2 separate regions of the Homo sapiens genome follow, and region 2 is linked to region 1. Evidence: fine-mapped expression QTL. A gene starts in region 1. The other region holds a variant in brackets. All regions are shown on one strand. Distances are between the middles of the regions. Region 1 holds the start of DTX4 (deltex E3 ubiquitin ligase 4). Region 2 holds the start of LOC124902675 (a long non-coding RNA gene).

Region 1 (9,003 bases):
ATATACTGACCAAAAAATGATGGTGAAGATGTAGTGACCAGATCATGGGTATATTGCTGGTGAAAATTCAAAATGGTGCAGCCACTTTAGAAAACTGGCAGTTTGTTAAAAAAGCTAAACATGCAACTACCCTATGACCTTGCCATTGTACTCCTAGGCATTTATCACAGAGAAATGGATACTTTACCTTCACACAAAAACCTGGATGAGAGTGTTCATAGTAGCTTTATTCATAATAGCCCAAACTAGAAACAACTTATATGAACTTCCATGGATGAACAGTAAGGTGGTCCATGGATACTATGGAACACTACTTAGCAATAAAAAGAAACAAACTTCTCTTGATACACACAACTTGGATGAATCTTTAGAGAATTAAGCTGAGTGGAAAAAGCCTATCTTAAAAGATTGAATGCTCTATGATCCATTTGCATAATATTCTTGAAATGACAAAATCATAAATATGGAGAACATATTAGTTATTGCCAGGAGTTATGGACAGGATGGTAGTGGGGAGGAATTAGTGGGTGTGACCTTTTAGGGCAACATGAGAAATCCTTGTGGTGTGGAAAATGTATATTGTATACAAAATGTGTATTGTATAATGTGTGACACAATGGTATTATATCAATAATGGAGCAGAATTGTAACCATTCTGTATCTTAACTGTGTCAATATCAGCAATGGTATTGCACTATAGTTTTCCTATAGTTTTATGGGATGTTGAGGATACACAGGCTCTGTCTGTTTCTTATAACTGCATGTGAATTTAAATTATTTTAAAATAAAAAATTAAAATGCAATGCATCTTCTGCCTGGCTTTTTCTCTTGCCTCTCGTTTATTTGGAAACTAACTTCTGTGTTGTGAGAATGCCCATCAATCACATGGACAGGCCATGTGTAGGTACTTGGGCTGATAGCCCTAGTTGAGTGCCCAGATAACAGCCAGTATCAAGCAGTAGACTTATGAATGAGCAAACCTACAGATGATTCCAGCCACCTGCTTTCCTGAGAGCTCCCTTGAGCTAATGCTGTGTGTAGCAAAGACCAGCTGTCCTTGGAAGCCCTCCCCAAAGTGCAGATGTGTTTGAAAAATAAACGCTTGCTGCTGTTTTTAGCCACCAGTTTTAGGGTGCTTTATTACATAATAATAGGTAATTGAAAAAAAAAAGGGCTTTGTCTATGAACATTCCACAGAAAAAGAAGAGAAGCGGCTTTTTCACTGAATCTTTGTGTTAGACAATGACGACCTTTTTTGAAGTATCATCAAATTGTACCTTTGAACAGTTCAAAACTGGCTTCATAGTCTCAATTAGTGAGGTTTTATTATAGCCATCATATGTTCAAATTAAAAATTTGGCATATCATTTGGTTAAAGATTTTTATGCCACTTATGAGTACAGGAGACAATTTGGGAGATATAGTTTGGATACTAAAATGGAATGTCGGCCAGGCACGGTGGCTCATGCCTGTAATCCCAGCACTTTGGGAGGCCAAGGCGGGCGGATCACCTGAGTCCGGAGTTCGAGACCAGCCTGGCCAACATGGTGAAACCCCATCTCTACTAAAACTACAAAAATTAGCCGGGCCTGGTCACAGGCACCTGTAATCCTAGCTACTGGGGAGGCTGAGGCAGGAGAATCGCTTGAACCTGGGAGGAGGAGGTTGCAGTGAGCCGAGATCATGCCATTGCACTCCAGCCTAGGGGACAAGAGCAAGATTTTGTCTCAAAAAATAAATAAATAAATAAAATGGAATTTCTGAGATTTTCAGGGTTTATGGTACAGATTATTTGAAATTAGGATTGTGTTAGAAGATCTAAGAAATGTATATACATATATAATAATTATTTATACATAATTATAAATTATTATTTCTAATTGGGTCATGATAAACTATAAATTATCATGGATTATTAAAATACAAATATTTTACATCTATAATTTACTATTAATGTCAAGTCATACACACACAAACACGAGGGGACTTCCAAAAGTTTGTGAAAAATAAAATTAAAAAACAAAATAAAAAATGTACACTTTATTTCTCAACATAAGCACCATCAAGTTCAAGATATTTTGTAGGTGATGATATGAATCATTTAGTCCATCACTAAAGAACTGAGTGTCCTGGGACCCTAACCATATCAATGCAGTTTTACTTTACTATAGAAAAACAGATGCTCTTTAAAAAATTTTTTAAGATTAGGAAACAAAAAGAAGTCAGAGGAGCCAAATCAGGACTGTACAGCAGATTAAAAGATTTTCCATCAAATTGCTCACAAAAGTGCGTTTGTTTGATGAGAGGAATGAGCATGAACATTGCCATGGTGGAGAACGACTCTGGTGAAGCTTTCCCAGGTATTTTATCCTAAAGCTGTTGCTAATTTTTGCAAAATACTCTCATATTAGGCAGATGTTATTGTTCTCTGGCCCTCCAGAAAGTCAGTAAGTAAAATGCCTTGAGCATCTCCAAAAAATTGTTGCCATGGTCTCTGCTTTTGACCAGTGCACTTTTGCTTTGACTGGACCACTTCTACCTCTTGATAGCCATTGCTTTGGTTGTTCCTTGTCATCAGGATTATACTGGTAATGTTTCATCTCCTGTTACAATTCTTCAAAGAAATGTTTCATGATCCTGATCCCACCCATTTAAAATCTCTATTGAAAGGCCTGCTCTTGTCTGTGGCCAACCTGGGTGCAATGGTTTTGGCACCTATCAAGGAATGGAAAGTTTAATTTCTTTGTCAGAATTGTGTAAGCTGAACCAGTTGACATATCTATGGTGTAGGCTATTGTTTTGACTGCTAATCCTTGATCCTCTTCAGTAAGGGCATTGTCTTACCCTTCTTAGTGTCTCAAACTAGATCCTGTTCAGACATGTTATAACAAGTTAGTATGAGTTTATTTGGGTGCAAAAAAACAATTTGAACTACCAGCCTAGTTTTTTCATAATATGCATTTTCCATAAAATTTTAAAGACCCCTCTCATTTGTGTGTATATGTGTGTATGTGTGTGTGTGTATTCACTTCCTCTTGCAAATGAATCAGACTACATACAAACCTTCTCACATGTCATAAGATATTTTTATTCTGCTGTAATACTCTGTTGTGTTTAACATGGAAGATACAAGAAGACCAGATACAAAACTAGGCTGGACATAGGCAGGTAGGCGTCAGTTTCCTTCTGCCTTCCATTCGCCTTTCAAACAGCTCATCTAACATTTGCTGGTAGCCTGCTTATCTAGTTTAGATTTTTTTCACCTTGGAATTTCTGGCTTAGCTGGTCAGGTGCTATATTTTCGCTGGTACTTCCAATATCCCCTTGAATCATTACTCTTCACTTTTTGATTCATACTTACCAAGACTATAAGAAAGTTTCCTGAGTTTTGATACTTTCCATTTTTATGACTAGAAATAAAAGTAGCCCAATAAATTTTTAAATTACTTTTTCTTCAGTTTGCCTTCTGTTTCTTTTCCAGAAAATTCTACCCCCATTTTCTCCCTTCCCTTCTTTCACACTGAGACACTTCTACATTGCCTGTTATTGTGCCACCTCTGTGTTGTATAGGACATGCTATGGAACAGGCATTTTCTTTTGAGACAGCCCAACTAAATTTTGAATACTGGTTTCCCCTCTAACTAGCTATGTAATCTAGGGCAAATAGTTTAAATTCCTTAAGTCCTGTCATTTGTAAAATGGTAATAATAATGGCCTATGATATAATTAGTCGAGGTATCCTTGTTTTCTTTTTGTTCTTCTAATTCTGAAACTCGACATTTTAATGAGTGGTATTGTTTAGGTTGGATTAGGAACAGTCCCCAAATAAGGGAGAGGCCGACTAGGCATTTTGGAGGCCAAGCTGTGCAAGAAGACCAGAAAGAACAAAGCTCAGAGGTTCCTTGAGCCTGGTGCCTTTAGGGGCCTGAAGAAGAACAGATCTCACACTTTTTCTTTTGCTTTGTATTTAGAACTCTGTTGGGAGAAAGATAAAGGTAGAAGGATGCAAAATTCTAACAATGGGAGAAATGACAGCTGCAAGGAGAGGGAGGGGGAAGCAACTCTTCTAAAACATAAAAGGGTCATATGATATTTATGAAAAAATTGATTATTTCAAAAAGATTCACAATCCCATTCTCTAACACATAATCTATTTTTACTTTCCCGCATCCTATAACTTGGATCTTGATAAGACTCGATTCGTTGTTTTATGTGGTTTGCAATCTCAACAAAACAAAATTTGTGTTCTTTGACAAGGATAATGCATAATCCTGACTTCAGTCTTCCCTTTTAGTCAGAACCTACCTATTTAAGGTTATTTTCCATATTAACTATTGATGATCAAAATAAGTCTAACTCGTGTTTTTCCTAGTGTTTCATAATTTTAGTTACAGAAACGATGCAGATAAAATTAATCTAACATGCGTCTTCCTGACTCTAGTACGTTGAATCTGGCCAGAAAAACCACATTTGCTCTCTACGTAGGTAATATAAATCCATCATTAGCGAAATTGCTGCATCCCTTTGGACTGGGTCTCATTAGCAGAGGTTGGAGTGGCCACTGGCCGGCACACGACACTTTAGGCCAGCAGGGGGCGGGTAAGCTCCAGGGCACTCGCCCGAGCAGCAGGGGGCGTGTCTTCTGCTTCCTTGACGGACAGCTAAGGATGCGGGAGAGGATGAGGTAATAGGAGCCGGGGCAAGGAAGGAGTTGGGGTGCGCGCGCGTGTGTGTGCGACTGTGAGTGTGCCAGTGCGTGCGCAAGCCCCGAGACAATGCGTGTCTCCAGTTCGCGCTGCGGACACTGATCATGCTGCATTAAGGAAAAAAAAAGAGAGAGAGAGAGAAAATTACATTTGGGGGAAGGAGGCTGCAAAGTTGCGGCTGGGCGACAGTGGTGGTCCCGGGGCCGTGTCATGGCGGGTCGCTTCTCTGCATCAAGGAACCAGGGAAACACACGCGGGCGCGGGTTTGCCTTAGCGCCCTGCTTGGGAGGGGTGGTTCATTCTGGAAGGAACTGAGCAGAGCCACAGGCAGGGGGAGCTCTCCCAGCGGCGGGGACTGCAATTCGTGCGGCGAAGGGGTGGGGAGGGAGGGAGAGAGGGGAGGGGACCAGAGCGTGCCATTCCGAGCGCGGCCGTGCGGCGAGATCCCACCCCGGCGTCTGCAGAGGCCGAGGCGCAACTGGTGCGAGGGCTGGGTCCTTGCCTCGCCGTCAGCCCCAGCTCGCGGCCGCCGGGGCTCGGGCCGCGCGCCCGCCGAGTGGCTTTTGCAAGGCGGGGGCCTGTTTGCAGAGAGCCGGGCATTTGCATGAAGCGACTCGACCCCACAGAGCAGCGGCAGCAGCAGCGGACCCCGGCGGCGGCGGCGGCGCGCGGTCCCAGCCAGGCGGCCCCGGTGTCCCGGCCCCGGTGGATGCACGGCTGGGGAGGAGCCCATGGGCCGGAGCTGAGGCTGCCCGGGGCGGCGGGGCGCGGGGCAGGGGGCGCGGTCGAGGCCCGGAGGCGGCGGCGCAGGAGGAAGCGGAGGAGGTCGGGCGCTCGGGGCCCGGGAGGCGGGCCGCGCAGCGCCGCAGCCCCGGGCTCGCCATGCTCCTGGCCTCGGCCGTGGTGGTCTGGGAATGGCTGAACGAGCACGGCCGCTGGCGTCCCTACAGCCCAGCGGTGAGCCACCACATCGAGGCGGTGGTCCGCGCCGGCCCCCGCGCGGGGGGCAGCGTGGTGCTGGGCCAGGTGGACAGCCGTCTCGCGCCCTACATCATCGACCTGCAGTCCATGAACCAGTTCCGCCAAGACACGGGTGAGCCAGCCGCCCCTGACCCCGCCCCGCCTGCTCCCACCTTCCCAACCTGCCAAGGTACCTCCCTCCCTGTGAACCCACCTTGGCCACCTAGTCGGCACTTCTGTGCAGCAGTGTCACCAAGAGGTGGTGGTGGGAGGCGATTCACTCCGCTGAATCCTCGCAGGATCCTCCCTCCCCCTTAAACATCCATGCAAATAGTATCAGTGTTGTGGTTTTGCAAACCCAGCTTCAACCTAGTCGGTAACAATCCACTCCCCACCCCTTTCATGCCCCCGCTTTTCAGCAGTTGGTGGCCCTAAGTCTTTCTATGTAGAAATTCTAGGGCCGCCCCAGACTACAGGCAATCCCAGCCCTTCGCAAAGGCTTCCTGCCCTCATCCCGTGGCGGCCGGCACCTTGGCTGACCTGACCCTGTTTTGCTTCAGGCACGCTGGGGCTTGCCACACGTCCCCTCACCCCCGATCTCACTGCCTCTGCGTCTCCTGTGTGGGATGCCTCCCCGCAGCTGGGTCCTGGGTGTGGGAACTGGGGGAGGAAGAAGGGATTCCCCGGAGGTTCTCGCTACAGTCGGGTAAGGGAAGCGCCGGGCTCCCTGGGAGGAGAGACTAGGGCTGGGGTACCCTGGACGCCGCGGCATTGGCGAATGCCTCTGCTACACACTACATGCGCGGAAGCAACAGGCCGGAGCAGATGGAGAGAGGAGGGGGAGGCTCGGGGCTTCGGAATGCATGGCAGGGAAGCCGCTCCCTTTGTCTGCGGAGGAGGAGGACGCAGATTCCTAAGGAGAAACTGTCCCCAGGCTTCCTCTTGAAACCATAGCCTGTAAGGAACCCATGGTCTCCTGGAGCGCCAAACTCCTATCTTTTCATGAGAATCAAGTTGTCACTGTAGCCAGCACAAACCCGCTTCCCAGCTGACCTGCCTTTCCAGGTCAGAGCCAGGAAGGGAGCCTCCAGGATGGGGCCTTGGGGGGTGGGGAGTGGGGGTGCTGCCCAAGGGAGAGCAAAACTGCCTCTCTTTGCTCGGTCCTTGCTTAATCGATGACCCGGGAAGAGTTTCTGCCTCCGTCAGTGACAGGTGGGGAGGGGGCCATTGTTTCTGGAATTCTGGCTCGGCTTTCCCAAGAGTGCAACCGAGGAGCCTGGAGAGGCCGGTGTGCTGGGGAGGACGTAGAGAAGATGACTCGGAAAGGCCCTCCCCAGTGAACAGCTGTTTGAGCAGAGTCTCTCTGCTTCCTTGGAAAGCCCCCACATCCTGTGTGCTAATTAGGATTGTCATGGGAAAGGGGTATCTTTCCACCCTCATGTCCCCATCTTTAGTCATAACTCCCAGCAACCCCTTTGCCAAGGACTCTGCAGACACTGGCTGATTGAGGAGAGCTTTCTGGGGAGAGGATTCTGGAAGTGTTAGAATCTGGAGGGGCTTCAACCGTGTGTGGAGCTGAGGGAGACTGGGAGGAGCAGAGAATAGAGAGGAATGTGGGGAGATTGAGAAAGAGGATTAAGTGTGGCTGAGGGGGAGGGAGAGAATGTCATTGCGCAACTTGGGTAAAGGTTGTGGAGGTGAGGGTGGAGGCATCAGAAGGTGAGGGTGGAGGGGGTGTGTGTTGGGCGGAGCTGAGCCACGGAGGTGGGACCAGAGAGAGAGAGAGAGACCAGCAGTTAAAGCATCTGACAGGGGATTCCAGTCCTGGAAAAAAAAAAAAGCAGGTGTTACCTTTTCTATTTCAGAGTAAATCTCTACAGCATTTGGAAAACCACCCTTGTGACAGAAACGTCTCAGCCCCTTTCCCACATTTGGAAAGGGCAAAGGTGGAATCTGTGTTTGGGGGTACTTAGGATAGGCAAGGTATCTACAAAGGTTCATGACCCTTTCTACAGAAGCGAAGTTGTAGAGAAAACTGGGTGGAAGGAAAGAAGCTACGTTTCCCAGGTCTGATCACTCTTACCTGAGGACTGCCTGGTGGTGAGCAATTTAGTCAGAGGCTGGCGCTCCCTGGACTTTAAACCTCAGGCAGAGAACTTGCCCTGAATCATTTTAAAGGCTGCCTCAGGGTGTGTTTATCATCAGACTGCTGTGGTTTCATCCGCTCATTGCTAGAGTCAGTCAGCCATCCTGAATACCTCTCTGCTGTGCGCCAGGCCCTGTGCTGGGTGCTGCGGACACTGGGCTGAATTCCCAGAAAAGCTGGGTCTGTCAGGGCGCTTGTCAAAGAAGAATAGAAGAATCTCTGGGTTTCTTAGCTCTGAGCCCCCTCCTCTCCCTTCTCCACCAACACACTCATAGTTCCTCTCAATCTCATTGATGAGGCCATGACAGGGTAGGAACTTTAAACCAGTGGCTCCCAGGCAACCTCAGCTAAGCCCTTGCAATGTTTAATTAAATTACCCACCATCCTTAAGCCATAATTCAAAGCTGGGAACCAGAAACATCCCCATAAACAAAAGAGATCTGGAAGTCCCCTGCCCAGAGGCGATTCCTCTCCTTTTTTGTTGCCTCCTCTGTATGGGGACATTTCCTGACATGAGAGCTTTGTCTTTTTAGAAGTTGCTTGCTCTGCTGCTGATAGAGTCCTCAGGCTCTCCACTCGCCTGGGCTCCTGACCTCATCCAGCCTGTCTCCAGGGAGATGGCTGGGAGGTCCCAGACACCCGTCTGCCCGCCTCTGTTTGCCCTGGGCCCTTCTCCTTCCCCAGACTGCCTAGAGGTCTGATCTTATTTGCATTCTATGCCAGTCTTCTCTAGGCATTTTGGGCTAGAGAATCTGGAATAAGGGTAGAGATGGGGTGAGATAGATGGGACTGGCTCTTGGCCACTTCCAAAAGCCTCGGTGGGCCCCTCTCCACCTGCCATCATTTACCTTGACTGGGTTGTCCTTTTTCTGTTGTAGGGCAGTGACTGAAGAGCTTTACTTCAGCATCACTTTCCCCTGTACCTTTCAGCATGCCTGACCCTACCAACTCCAGGTTTTCAGTAGCAGGATGCGGAAGATCCAGGCTGAGAGTGGAGACAAACAACTGTGGCTCTCATTCCAGGCTCACTGTTTACTCCGTGACCTTGACCAAGTCTCTAAATGGTCAGGCCTCATTTTTTTTTTTTTTTTTAGAATGAAGAGCAGGCTTAAGATTTCTTCTTTCCCTCTTTTTCTTTCCTCCCATCATGCAGATCAACAGGTGAATGGGTTGGCCCCTGTGCCAGTGATG
Region 2 (9,003 bases), 22 kb after region 1:
CTTAACTGCATTTTATTAGAATTAAATACTGGTCCATTTTGTTCCACGTGTCAAAATGACATTGTATCTGCTCTTTCCTTTCACAGGGTCCCCACAGTCCCAGTGAAGAACCTAAATGGGTCCAGTCCTGTCAACCCTGCCTTGGCAGGTAAGAGAAACCCCAGGATGCTCTGGGTTAAGGTAGAGAAATCAGAGTGATGAAATAGGTCATGAGCATTTGTGGAAAAAAAGGAGAGAATCTAGATATTAATGAAAGCAAATGGTGATTTTAGGAATTGCATGGGAAGGGTATGAAGAGTTTGGAAGAGAACTGATTACTAAAAGGAAAGCATGCAATTGAAGATAAGTGAGTGAATGAATAAGTTTCTGGGGAAAGTACAGGGTAGAGAATCCAGGAATTATGAGAACTTTCTGCTGGAAAGGAGGAGAGTAGGTTAATGGGGAAAGAGGAATTTGGGGAATGTTGAGAGCTAAGTCTCCAGTCTTTCCTCACCCATGCCCTGCCCCTTCCAGGAATCACTGGGATCCTCATGAGTGCAGCGGGGCTGCCTGTGTGTCTCACCAGGCCACCAAAGCTGGTCCTACACCCACCCCCCGTCAGCAAGAGTGAAATAAAATCCATCCCAGGGGTTTCCAACACAAGCCGCAAGACCACCAAAAAACAAGCCAAGAAAGGTACCAGCCTCTTGTCTCGTGGGGTACTGAGAGTCAAAGACTTGGCTGTCAGCCCTGAGTCTGCCTCAACCTCCAAGGGTCATAGCCACGGCTTCACCCTCTGTGCCTCAATTTCTGCATCTGTAAGTGGGCCTAACCAGTAAATCTTGACGATTATACCACAGCTGATGTGTATGGATCAGATGGAAACACCTTGAGAAATAAAAATATACAATGCAAAAGTATAGAAACATAAAAATATAAGGCGTGGTACAAAGAAAATATGTTAGAAGAGAAAGATGACTTTGGCATTGGAACCAAAACAGACTGGATTCAAATCGTACCTTTGTTTCTTGCAAGTTGTGTGACCACATGGAGCCCCTATTTTCTCATCTTTATAATGAAGTAAAAATAGTCACAACTGGTATAACTGGTATCCAGCAGGTATATCCTGGAATGCATCCATGACAGTTAGGAAGTAGTCCCTGTCCTGTGTCCCCCTAGAACCTACAGAAATCTCTGCTCTGAAATCCTCCTTTAGGAACCCCCTCCTACCTGCAGGCAATCCGGCAAATAAGGGGTCAATATCTGTACCTTCCTAGCACTGCAGGACCCCAGCTTAGCTCTGTGGCTTGTCTTTCTGGTCACTGGCATTAGTTGTTAAATTTGACCATCTCCCTAAGCCCCAATCTTGCAGGCTTGTGAAGTTTAAATTGGATCATGTGTGTGTTGCACTTAGCCCAGGGCCTGGCAAGAAATAGGCTCTTAATTACTAGAGCTTAATTCTTACAAGAGAAGCAGGGCAACTGGAGGAAAGGGCCTGCATCGAAGCTTTTGGCTGTTGCATGATCCACTTCCTCAAACCCTTGTCCTACTTTTCCAGTCCGTCAAGATTTCCCTGCTTAAATGAGCTCAATTGCCTTGCTCATAGTCTTATCGGAAATAACAGCATTTTACACTTTCCCACTCTTCCTGTTATTATTAATAGTGCATATCGGGCCCTTATCTGGCAGAGAGCTAAAGGGCAGTACATCCATTTGCTCATTCAATTGTCAAAGCAACCCTTTGAGGTAGTGCTATTGCTCATCCCCATTTCATAGGTGAGAAAACAGAAGCTTAGAGAAATTAAGGGAGTGGCCCAAGGTAGCACTGATCATTTTTCAGGTTATATCATCCCATCCTCTACCTTCAGGTTGGGCTACCTTTTAAGAGTCCAGTCCCCTGAAAAAAATCCCTAAATCATTGCAGCCCATCAGGATGCTTCCCAGAGGATCACCCTTCCCCTGCTGCAGGACTGTGCTGGCTGGCAGTGACAGTGCCATCCACAGCCAGGAAAGATTGTTCTGGAGTCGTGGGTCATAACTTCCTTGTTTCCCATAAAAATAATCACACTTTGACACCACATTATAAATTGAGACTACACTTAGCAAATTGTAAAATGAAGGTGGTAAGACTGCCTAACATCTATTTAACGTGTAACAGTTTGCAAAGTGCTGTTATCAAATCATTTGATTATAAGGAAGAGAAACCCACTCAACTCTTCTCAATTAAAAAAGTGGTTTGTTGAAAATAGGCAGAGAGATGTCAGAAAAGGGACTGCAAGAAATAAAGCCTTCTCGTCAAACCATCTCACTAGCTTTTCCACAATCCATACTCTCTTCCATGTTCTTAACTTAAATTGCAGAAGGAATTCCTCCCCTTTTTGCTTTTAACTTGCCTGATAACGTCCCCCTCTACCATGTCTAGCACGACAAGGCTGTTTGATCTCTTACCTCTGCCTTGGTGGCCCACTGAACCTCCTGTCTCTGCAGGTAAAACCCCAGAGGAAGTGCTAAAAAAATATCTACAGAAAGTCCGGCACCCACCAGATGAGGTGAGTTCAGGGTTAGAAGAGCGGGATTCACCTCTCCATCACCCACAAGCATTTCCTCTTCTGCTGTTGGTTTCTACAGGATATGGCGGGGGCTGCATTCCAAGTTCTCATGGATACAGAACTGGTCAGAACTGACACTGAGGGTTCAAGGTCCATGGTCCAGAGCTGCAGCTGCACCTCAATCTCTCCCGCCTCCCCCTTCAGCATAGTGCTGGTTGTTTTTAAGCTACCTTAACATGACAGTCTCAATTTAGGAAAAACAGTGTGATAAGCCACAAGAACTCACCTTAAAATGGGTTTGATACAGAACAGTGGTTCTCAACCAGAGACAATTTGGCCCCTGAGGGAACATTTGGCCATGTCTGGAGACATTTTTGGTCGTCATTATTCTCAGGACCTTGTGAGTAGAGCAGAGGCCAGGGATGGTGCTAACCACCCTACAATGCCCAGGACAGTCCTCACAGCAAAGAATTGTCCTCCCCAAAATGTAAATAGTTCTGAGGTTTAGAAACCCTGTTGGACATTTATTTAAATAGCCGTCCCTCTGGTACAGTTAAAATACAATTCCTTTACATTCCTTAAAAATTCACCTTAAGTAAAGCTCCTCAGTGGGCTTGTTGACAGTATTTGTTTCCTCCATAAGCCGTTGAAGGACAAAACAGAAGGACAGTGCATTGTTATAGCCCTCACGATTATGATAATTTAGATGATGAGCCCAAGTTAATCAGTACCAGGAATTATTTCAGGACGTTGTTGTGTAAAGACAAAACGATATTTAGATTCCAGAAAGCACTTACACCCTGATTTGTGGGTGTTTTAGAAGAGAAGTGGTAAGAGCTCATCTGACCTCTGAGATCATGTGGAAATCTCCCAGGCTGAGTGAGAGCTGACAGCCTCTCTGCTGTGTCTCCTCCCTCCCCAGGACTGCACCATCTGTATGGAACGCCTCACGGCCCCCTCAGGCTACAAGGGCCCGCAGCCTACGGTAAAACCTGACCTGGTAGGGAAGCTGTCCAGATGCGGCCACGTCTACCACATCTACTGCTTGGTTGCCATGTACAACAATGGGAACAAGGTCAGTGCCAGCCTATGGGGCTCCTGCCACCCTTCACACTGGGCTCTGGAGTAGCAAGATGGTGAAGGCCCTTTAGGGCCCTTGCTCAAGTGATCTGGGAAGTCTTAGAGGTTATCCCTAGGCAAGAGTGATGATCTTGGCTGTTCTCAGCAGGATCAGTTCTTTACTAAATTACAGTGCTGGTAAGACCTGTCTTCACCTTCCCTTTTGGGCTGTGCTATCTAATTCTCCATCTTCGGTGTCAGGTCTAAGAGTGGGGTAGGTTTTGCCCCTGAGGGTTCTGAGGGGAGTGGCCCATTGTCATGGCCCATTGCTAGGTGAAGTGTGCTCCCATCAGTGAGAGAGAAGGAAGTTCTTATCACAGCGCTAGACCCATGGTGAGTATTCGTTCATACCATTGTAAATGGGTTTCCCAATCACCCTTTCTTCCCCAGGGTTAGTGATTTTCAGCTACAATTTTCTTTGGACAATTTCAAAACACCCTTGATTGGCCCTTCAAAGGTACTAAAGACTGTTGCCAAAGTACACCTGGTAATCCCTGCCCTAGAATCCCACTGTTGGAAGAGGGGAAGGCTGTTTGGGATGCTTGTCTTGTCTATTATCTGACAATGCAATGGTATCCCCTCATTAGAGCTGGTTCTTTGGAATCTGGAAGACTCCATAGGTGATCATTCTCTCCTTACAGTGTCTGAGCATTTCCTAAGTCATTGACTCATGTTCTTTCGTGTACCTGAGATAACTTTTACTCCCTATTTCCATGAGTACTTATTTCTCCAGGCCAAGCTTAGATTACATCAGAGTCTGAGATCTCCCTGATAGCTCCCAACCTCTCACTAAGCAAGAAGTATGTCTGGATTATACGTCTGTCTGGTCTGGTCTAT[A/ACGT]CGTCTCTTACTGTGGGAAAGAAGTAGAGGTAAGAGAGGTGGGAGACCTGAGCTTGAATCCTGGCTTATTAGCTGAATGACCTTGGACAAGGTTTTCCAATCTCTGAGAGAGACTTTCCATCTGGAAAATGGAGATTAAAACTATACCTACTTTATGGGGTCTTATGCTATTATTATTCAAATTGATATCGCCTTTGTATTAAAGGCTGTAATTTTTTCCTTCATCTTCATGTAGCCTATTTGATTGAAGTTCCCAAAGTGCTTTCTTGGTGTCCCTGAGAGACATGCTTATAGTGGTGGTCAGTCATTGATGGGGGATGCAAATCTGGATCACTTGCTCACTTTCCCAACCCTGGGCTAAAAGGATTCATTGGGATCTTGCATTTCAAGAAGTTATTTTGGGCTTAAAGGGGTTTCTTAGCACATTTGTTCCCTATTTGATGTCTATATTCAAGAAGAATATGGTAACTCTACATTTATTTCCATGGGGCTTTCAAAAATGTTTCTCAAGAGTCTATGCTTTATTCTCTTTTGCACTAATACTTTGAAGCATGTGTTTTTATTTTATCAAACACATGAGAGAAAAGGGCCCAAGAAGAAAGGAGTGATTCACCCTAGGTCATGAAGCAAGTCAAGGCCAAAGCAGAAAGTGGGAACCTGGTTTCAGAGAATAGTCACCCTGAATACGAGCTATTGCTTTAAGCGAGTAGACTGGAGAAGTCCCTAAATAGCTCAGCAGAGGATCCCTGTCTTCCCGAGGAGTTGGGGATGTCCTGGCAAGCTTTCATCCCAGCTGCGCAGCAGCACATTTTACACACGTTGCTCCCAGCCCATGCGCCTTCCTTCTCTTTGCCCCTCCTTTTTGCGAGCCTGGGAATAGGATTCGGTGTCCAGGCCCTCCTCCAGGCAGCACCTCACCAGGTCCTGCAGTGAAACCGTCACCCTGTACACCCCTGCATCCAGAACTGCCTCTTCCCACTAATGGAGCCACCGAGTTGCAATGCAAAGCTGGGGGTTTAAACAGACCCCACACCCTGACAAGCAGGAAGTCCTTTAATCTTGCTGTGCCTCGATTTTCCTCTCTACAAAAAGGGGCTAATAATTTCTTCCAGGCCATTGTCAGAAGCTAAAGCCTAAATGAAACAAGAAATATTAAACTCTTTATAGTATGATTTAAAGCACTATAATTACTGGCATCATTCTCTCTTCTAGGTATTTGTGCAGACCTTACACTCTATCCTTCTAAGCAAATTCATAGCTATTCTTCAAGGACCATTTTCTTAAAGTTATCCTCATTTACTCCAGCTCTTAGTGGCCAATTTCTCTTTTCATAGCAGTAGTTTCCAAACCTGTATGAGCATCAGTCTTTCCATGGAAATTATAAAAATGCTAATAACATTTAGATACACCACATGCTAAGATCTTCCTATAGATTATCTCATTTAATTCTCCCAACAACCCGATGAGACAGATATTTTTTATCCTTCTCCTATAAGGGAAACTGAGACTCAGAGAAGTTAATTAATTTGTCCAAGGTCACACAGCAGTCAGATGGCAGAGCTAAGAATTACGTCTAGGCAGTCTGATTTTCACATTCACAGCCTGAAACATTATGCTTTGCAGCTTCCCAGTTCTTACTCAGTGGACCCGATGTGGTGCCCAGGCATCTGTGTGATTAACAAGCTCTGTGGGTGATTCTGATGCTCAGGAACTGGGCAGTTGCTGCTCTCCAGGTCTTTCTGTCTGTTCCACCCATTTGGTACTGAGTGGCTGAATAATGACTCCCTGTGTAGGCTCCTGCCCTAGAGAGCTGGTCCCCTCCTCAGGGACAGGGGCTTCTCTTACATATCCCTCAGCATGGAGCATGGGACCAGTTGTGGAATTTACCTCCTATTACTTTGGAGAAAGCAGAAATAGCCTAGGTGACTGGGCTGGGAGGGAAAAACTAAGATCTATCACTCACCAGGGTGCATTTTGTTCCCCTGGCCCTTCATCTCTGGTACCTTTTGGGACTGGGTGGGAAAGTTATTACCAAAACTGTTTCCCAATCTGGCTCTTCTGGCCTTGGCCCCTCAGGATGGAAGTTTGCAGTGTCCAACCTGCAAGACCATTTATGGGGTGAAGACAGGCACCCAACCTCCAGGGAAGATGGAGTACCACCTCATCCCCCACTCCTTGCCTGGCCACCCAGACTGCAAAACCATCCGGATCATCTACAGCATCCCCCCCGGCATTCAGGTGAGCCTTTCTCTCAGGTGAGCCTTTCTGTCACCCCTTGGTTTTTATTGTTCTATGTGTTTGTAGGTAAAAAGTTACATATGAAGAGTCTCCTTCCCACACTTTTCCGCCATCTACCCAGCCTTGCCCGCTGACACTACATCCCCCGACTCAACACTATTGTTCTGACTTTCCTATGTATCCTTCCAGGATTCTTTGTGCACACACAACAGAAAATCGCATCCACCCTTCCCTTTTTTTTTTCACAAACAGTGACATTTAGGCACATTGTTTGGCACCCTGCGCTTTTCAGTTAACAATGTAGTCTGTAGATCTTTCCACATCAGTATAGAGAGAGCTTCCTCGTTCTTGTGTCTGTGTAATCATCCATTGTATAAATGTACCACTATTTGCATTCAGCAGTCTCCATTTGATGGGCATATGGATTGTTGCCAATCTTTGGCTACAACAAATAATGCTGGAATGAATAACCTTGTACACATGTGAATATATCTGTAGAATAATTTTCCAGAAGTGGAATTTCTTTGTCAAACGGTATTTGCACTTGTAATTTGATAGCTATACTTGGCTTTGATTTTGGTGGGCATTTCTTTCCTCTTTTGATTCTCTGAAAGACAGTCCTGAAGAACAAATCTGAACACTATTCCTGCCAGTAAATACAAATGTGGCACCTTCCTTCACACAATGAAGCTTTTTCTGAGTGTTCTGGGCCGTTGACTGTATGCATTTCTTTAGCAAATATTAATTCTTCTATCCTCTTTTCCTCCCTCCTAGTTTTCTTCTTCCATTTTGTCTTTTATTTAACAAACATGGAGTGTGGATTATGGTCCAGACATGTTCTAGACATTGGAGAAGCAATGAGCAAAGTAGACGCAATCCTTGCTCCTTGAAGCCCCTATTCTAGTGGGGCCAGGAAGGCCATAAAGGAAACAAATGAATAAACAAGGTACCTCCAGATAGTGATCATCGATGTGGAGGAAATAAAACAGGAAGTTGTGATAGCCTGTAAAAGAAGTGAATAATTCATAGTTCTTCCTGGAGGGGCTTACCAGCCAGTCAGGGGAAGATAAATGTACATCACTAATAAAACCTCTGAGATGCAACGTAGACAAAGTGAGAACACAGGCCTTCAAAGTCCAATGGACCTGGGTTCCCCTTCCTAGCTGAGTCTTTATTAGCTGGTGCCTTCAGCCCAGGGGTTCCCAACCCTCAGGCCACAGAAGGGGCCGCACAGTAGGAGGTGAGTGATGGGTGAGCCAGTAATACCACCTGTGCTCTGCCTCCTGCCAGATAAGTGGCAGCCTTAGATTCTCATAGGAACACAAACTCTATTGTGAACTGTGCATGTGACGGATCTAGGTCGTGCACTCCTTATGAGAATCTAATGCCTGATGATCTGTCACTGTCTCCCATCATGCCCAGATGAGGCCATCTAGTTGCAGGGAAACAAGTTCAGGTATCTCACTGATTCTTCATTATGGTGAGTTGTGTAATTATTTTGTTATATATTGCAATGTAATAACAATAGAAAGAAAGTGTGCAATAAATGTAATGCTCTTGCATCATCCCAAAACCATCCCCCACCACCCCGGTCCATTGAAAAGTTGTCTTGCACAAAACCAGTCCCTGGGGCCAAAATGGTTGGGGACAGCTGTTTTAGACAACAGGCCCTTGACCTTTTGGAGCCTGATTTCTTCACCTGCCCAGCCAGGAGCCCAATTGGCAGAGGTTTGGTGAGAATGGGAAATAACGTTTGCCTATGCATATTGAAGAATGAGCACAGTACCAAGGTGCTCAATACCTGGTCGTCAACATCATTTTAGGTCCTGCTTGTCATGGTAAAGAGGAGGGCTTATATCTGTCTGTCTGTCTGGAAGGGTTAGAGGAGACTTTCTAGTGCAGGGAATTGTCTAGTTGAGTCTAGAAAGACATAAAAAAATGGAGGAGAACATTTTTAGTGGGAGGAGGTAAGAGGGTTGTAGAGGAAAAATTTGAGTATCAAAGGGCAAGAAGGAAGGGTTTAATTTGGGGCTCAAGACTCGCAAGGAAGTAGAGGGAGGAAGCATGAAGGAGATGGAGGGAGAAGACTAGGCCGTGAGGGAGGTTGCAGCCAGATCATAGAAGGCATTGAGTACCAGGGCGGGGGTCGTGGATTTTAATCATCAGTTATTGGATGTGCAGTTAGGAATATGGACCATTGTGTGAATGGAATTATGCTCTAGGAAGGCTAGTCAGGCAAAAGAGTCGGGGATGGCCAGAGGAAAGAAGACCAATTAAAAGGC

The links. PIP is the estimated chance that this variant, and not a neighbour inherited with it, causes the effect.
Region 2: its variant is fine-mapped to the expression of DTX4 in tibial nerve (GTEx, PIP 0.97).

The regions. Positions count from the first base shown.
Region 1 is chr11:59,167,008-59,176,010 of GRCh38, forward strand. DTX4 (deltex E3 ubiquitin ligase 4) reads left to right here and starts at 5,125. Exons shown (of 9, transcript NM_015177.2): 1 at 5,125-5,799. The coding sequence starts at 5,589. It overlaps LOC124902601 (basic proline-rich protein-like), which reads right to left and starts at 6,438. Exons shown (of 2, transcript XM_047427951.1): 1 at 6,258-6,438; 2 at 3,068-5,723. The coding sequence starts at 6,438. The coding sequence ends at 4,915. It overlaps LOC124902675 (a long non-coding RNA gene), which reads right to left. Exons shown (of 4, transcript XR_007062682.1): 4 at 6,692-7,490. RefSeq lists enhancers at 4,262-4,802, 4,889-5,183, 5,811-6,639, 6,082-6,191 and silencers at 5,062-5,631, 5,692-5,741, 7,889-7,958.
Region 2 is chr11:59,188,649-59,197,651 of GRCh38, forward strand. It overlaps DTX4 (deltex E3 ubiquitin ligase 4), which reads left to right. Exons shown (of 9, transcript NM_015177.2): 3 at 87-148; 4 at 514-675; 5 at 2,466-2,527; 6 at 3,450-3,602; 7 at 6,560-6,721. LOC124902675 (a long non-coding RNA gene) reads right to left here and starts at 3,454. Exons shown (of 4, transcript XR_007062682.1): 1 at 999-3,454. The variant A/ACGT (reference allele first, on the strand shown) is at 4,484.